Linked DNA regions of Homo sapiens: region 1 is linked to region 2. Evidence: fine-mapped expression QTL. A gene starts in region 2. The other region holds a variant in brackets. All regions are shown on one strand. Distances are between the middles of the regions.

Region 1 (2,714 bases), 22 kb before region 2:
AAACTCAGAAGTCAGAACAGGAAAAGGATCTCTCAACTAGGAAAAATGCTAACTTATCTATGTCCTGAATTTGGCAGAAATGTACTACAAAAAAATAATATTCAAAAGCAATAGATTAAAGAAATATTTCCCCACAATTCAACCTCTCTTTCACATAAGGGGTTTTCCTCCAGTATAATGTTGCAATCATAACACGAAGTAAATTTTAACACTAAACATATGCTTGTAATGAAAAACAAATTGTACCATCCACAGAATCTAAAGTTCAAGTAGCTTTCTCTCATGTCATTAATTCTGGCAATATTCTTGCCAATTGGGAGAGAAAGAGATGGTCTCTATTTTAACAAAAGAAGAAAAACAGAGAAAGAGGCCCAAGGGAGGCACAGCTACTCTCTCACGATCAGGGAGAAAACCATGGCTGGAAAGAGCTCTAAAAATCACGCTCCCTGCCACGCTCCACAGACGAGGCCTTGGCCAGGGGCTCTTGCAGGGAGGCAGCCTTCCCAATGTACATCTTTTCAAAATGTGTGTTTGGCATCATTTGATTGGGTGGAAGGGAAGGAAGGTGAATAAGGAAGGAAATGAAATTGTGAATAAGGGATTGAAGGGAAACACCAGGCCAGGGGTGCAGGCAGCTACATGGATGGATCCTGAAAGTATAGCACTGAGTGAGCCAAGAAGAGAGTCAGAGATGAAACTCGATCAGCTATGTTCATTAAAAATATATGCTTGGGCCAGGTACAGGGCTCACGCCTGTAATCTCAGCACTTTGGGAATTCGAGGCGAGCGGATCTCTTGGGCCCAGGAAATCGAGACCAGCCTGCGCAACATAGTGAGACCCTAGCTCTACAAAAATTTAAAAATTACCCGGGGGGCGTGATGGCACACATCTGTGGTCCCACCTACTCTGGAGGCTGAGGTAGGAGGATCACTTGAGCCCGGGAGGTTGAGGCTGCAGCAAGCCACGATCGTACCACTGCACTCCAGCCTGGATGACAGAGTGAGGCCCATAGTGAGAAAGAGAACATAAACAGGTACTCGTTAGAGGAAAACAGGGCCAGACACGGTGGCTCATGCCTGTAATCCCAGCACTTTGAGAGCCTGAGGCGGGCAGATCACCTGAGGTCAGGAGTTCAAGACCAGCCTAGCCAATATGGTGAAACCTCGTCTCTACTAAAAATCCAAAAATTACCTGGGCGTGGTGGTGCACATCTATAATCCCAGCTACTCAGGAGGCTCAGGCATGAGAATCGCTTGAACCAGGGAGATGGAGGCTGCAGTGAGCAGAGATCACACCACTGCACTCCAGCCTGGGTGACAGAACGAGACTCCATCTCAGAAAAAAAAGAAAGAAAGAAGGGAACAGATACAGAGGAAAGAAGGAAGAGAGAAAGAGGGTAGGAGAGGGAAAGAAAGTAACTTTGTGTGAAGCAAGGATGGTAACATACCTTGAACTGAGAGGCAAGAGAAAGACTGAGGCA[G/A]AGACAGAGACACAGAGACAGAGAGAGACAAAGACAGGGAGCCAGGAAACAAGCAGGGAATTAAAAGCTCTGAACTTCGTGCTTCAGAGAAAAGGGGTCAACACAGGCTCATTACCAAAATCCTGCTTTCAACACAAAATAGGATTAAAGTGGATTCAGAGAACCCGTGGCCAGTGACGTGACGGGACCGCCTAAGACCTTAGCACGCCAAGACTGGCACAATCCTGGAACATAAACACAAATAGCTCAATAGGTGCTTGTTACCACAAGAGAAATTGAAAAAAAAAATTAAATTTAAAAAATTATAATTAAAAAATTTTTTAAAAATTAAACAACAATTTTAAAAAAATTTTTTAAATTGTGCCAGGGCCAGTGCTAAGAACAAAGGTGGAAGCAGGACCGTCCTCAGGGAGCCGCTTCCGAACACTCCTGGCAGAGTTCAACATTCACTGTCAGTGATCAGATTAAAAATTACTTCACCATCATAACCGGACTTTCACCCTCCCCAGCCCTCCTCCTTTGCAAATACAATCTGGTTCCTGGACTCGCCTCACTGCCTACAAAGAACAAGAACAACGGTCTCCACGTCCCCCGTGGGGTGCAACGTGGCTCTGCCTCACAGCTCAGCTCTCAAACCGCACATGAAAGCACCTGCACTCATGTGGGCCCCGACTGGTTCAATCCCTCTCCCCTCTCCACAGTAACTGGTTCAAATGATCCAGGCTTGAGCCGATCAGAATTTGGCAAAGTTTGGGCAAAGGGACTGGGGAGGGGTGCAGGAAAAGGGACTTTCCACTCTTCTGTTTTTCTAGAGACACGGTCCCTGGCTTTCCTTTGGTTTCCCGAGGGATCTGTGACCTGACCCCAAAAGATCAGAATCACTACTTTTTAAAAATCTGTTTGTGAGGACGTAGGGGATGCTGTTGTTTCTCTCTCCTCTGTATGTTTGAAATTTTCCGCAATGAAAAAATGGTTTCTAAGAAGAAGATGATGATCCATCTGCTCTCACAAGGGGTACTAGAGGAGACCACCCAAGAGTAGGATGGGAACCAGGAATCCCGCGTGGAGCTGATGGCTGGATGCTACCCACAGCATCGAGCCAACACCAACAGTCACTGTGCGGAGGCTTCCCCAAGAAAGCCACGTTCACCTCTAACTCCCCAGGGGCATGCAAACTCCCGGGGAGAGCTGTGGGAACCCCACTTTAGGGCGACAGTGGGCCTCACAGCTGCC
Region 2 (2,754 bases):
AAGTAGCTGGAACTACAGGCACCCGCCACAATGCTCGGCTAATTTTTGTATTTTTAGTAGAGACGGGGTTTCGCCATGTTGGCCAGGCTGGTCTCGAACTCCTGACTTCAAGTGATCCACCTGCCTCGGCCTCCCAAAGTGCTGGCATTACAGGCATGAGAGACTGCGCAACAGCCCAAAACCTAAATGTTTTGGTCGCGGTACACCACACATCCAGAATTTGAGGTCAGAATGTTAAAATTGTCTAAAGCTCCTACGGTTCGCCTCTGGTGCTGCTGGAATGGCAGTATTGTTTTGGATCCAACACATTCAGCTTATTCATTACACTGGGAATAAAAAACATCAGCAGAACTTATTTGGGGAGAAATATATTAAATAAAAAATGACAATGTCAAAAATACCAGTGAACCTCAAAAGTTGCGGATTCATTAGTTTAAAATGTGCCTTTCTTCTACAGATGCATTCCATAACAAACGATGCAGAAGACATGCTCAGAAGTGATGCCATGAACAGAAATATTAAAATATGTGTTTAAATAAGCTTCTGCCGTTAGCTATTCACTGCTTACTCAATTAAGCTAATCAAATGCAGATCACAGTGTCAGGGTCAAAGTCTTGTGCTTGCCTGGACTGGAATGCCAAGTAAAAACACATGCTTATTAGATACCTTTGATCATGTCAAAGGTGGTTATTTTGCAAAGTCAATTAAAATATCTTTGCCTTGCTATGACTGCAACTTCCTCTTCAGCTAAATTTACCCTTAAGACTTTTCCCTCTTAGGTGCACTACTGTTTTTACCAGGATGAATATGCTTTAGATTTTTTTTTTCTTTTTAGGCTTTCATAGTGCTTCCGTCGCTCATTTCAGTGACCATATTATTGCTTCATAGGCAGCAAAAAAATTTGCTTCCCCAAAGAGTGTCCTTCCCTCAAATCCATTTCATTCTTGGGCTGCTCGGATTTTGGTAAAGTAGGCTGCGAACTGGGATGGCACTTTTCGGAGTGTGCCGGGGTGCCCCAAGGCCACCTTCACTGGAGCGGAGTCGGGGTCACGCGGACGCCTCTGCAGGATGCTCGGACACTGCGCCACGGCCTCACCCGCGCCAGTGGAGGGGGGTTTAGCTCTTACCGTGGGCTCGCGCCTGGCTTCCCCGAGAGGGAGCACCGTGGGCGTTTCCCAGGCTCTCCCCCGCCACTGGGCAACGGCCCCGCACGCGTCCCGCACCTTCCCCAGGGCGCGCGGCGCTCGGTGGGTTTGCGGTTGCGAAACCCCACACCTGGCGAGCCGCACGGACTGCAACCCCGCAGTGCGCTGGCCTGGGACAAGGCACCAGACATGAGAGCCCGTCTGGGATGCGCGGCACCACTGGGACCCTGCTTTCACCGCGGCCCACCCCGCCAAACGCCCCCGCCCACGGAGCCAGCGCGGGGCGCGCCACCACCTCCCCGGCGCAGGCCATCGGATACGCGGCCGGCCTCAGGAGCCGGCGCCGCTGCCTCGCTCTGACCTCCGCGGCGCCCGCACGTACCCACGTCGCCCAGGAAGCAGCCGTCCGCCGCCCGGGGCTCCATGCGGCTCACCGGCGGCCGCGCGGCGACTCTGGGCGCCGGGACCTGGGCCGGGCCGCGCGGGGCCGCTGGGCGGGGCCAGTCTGCGCTGGGCCGCGCGTCGTCCCGAGGCGACCGAGCCGGGAGTTGTAGTTCCCGCCGCCTTGGCGAGGTTCCCGGAGGCGCTGTCCCTGGGTCCGGACTCCGCTGTCGCTGCCCACCCCGCTTCGCCCGTCGCGCCGAGGAGTGTGTGTGCTTGCATCTGCAAACCGTGCGTCCCGTGCACAGAATACGTCCGGTGCAAAACGTGTCCTGTGCACTTGTCCTATGTAAACGTGTGTGTCCGTGTGCAAAACATGCATCCTGTGCATATGTCCTGTGCAAAACATGCGTCCGTGTGTAAACTTGTATCCATTGTAAGCATGCTTCCCTGTGTCCCTTTGCAAAGCATGGATATGTGTTTCCATGTGCAAAACATGTGTCCTGTACAAAACATGCATCCTGTGCATGTGTCCTGTGCAAGCGTGTCCTGTGCAAGCGTGTGCAAAACATGTGTCCATGTATAAACATGTATGTATTGCAAATGTGTCCTGTGCAAGCATGTGTCTGTGTCCACGTGCAAAGCATGCGTCTAGCTTCCAGAGTTCACTTGCATTGTACAGATGCTGATGATGCTCCAGAGTACTCGAGTTCCCCCATGCTTTAACTTTCAAGAACCGCTTCCCACCAGAGCCGGTGTTCATAATCACTGTTTCTTTGATCTTTCAAGATAATAATTTCAAATCGTTCAAATCAATTTCTTAATGCCTTTTCTTTACGGGTGGTTTTTAATCCAATGTTCCCCTAAGCTGCTTAGCAAATGGAAGCTGGGGCACAACCTGGCAGAAATGAAAAACCTGTTTCCTGTTTCCGGAATAATACCCAGTCAACAATTGAGTAAGGGATTTTTATTTTATTTATTTATTTTTGCAAAGCAGCTTCCCAAGTTTAGAAGGTTTAACCTTGTGAAAGTTCACTGTAGCCCTGTCAGGAGATTCGTCACTCACCTGACCTGTACTGAACCTCCATGCAGAAGTTAGTTTGGGCTCAAAAGTAAAAGTATCAGGAATCATCCAGTCTGGAAATAGGTGAGGCCTGGCAGAGCAGCCAGTTTGATCTCTCACACTACAAAGCTTCTGGGATGACCCAGGTCTCCATCTGCAGTCCAG

What was found.
Region 1: its variant is fine-mapped to the expression of ASB13 in whole blood (TOPMed, PIP 0.95).

What each region holds. Positions count from the first base shown.
Region 1 is chr10:5,643,481-5,646,194 of GRCh38, forward strand. All of the region lies in intron 4 of ASB13 (ankyrin repeat and SOCS box containing 13), which reads right to left. Among named protein-coding and RNA genes, the nearest start is that of ASB13, 22 kb to the right of the region's middle. The variant G/A (reference allele first, on the strand shown) is at 1,482.
Region 2 is chr10:5,664,982-5,667,735 of GRCh38, forward strand. ASB13 (ankyrin repeat and SOCS box containing 13) reads right to left here and starts at 1,614. Exons shown (of 6, transcript NM_024701.4): 1 at 1,528-1,614. The coding sequence starts at 1,570. RefSeq lists silencers at 1,198-1,247, 1,548-1,617.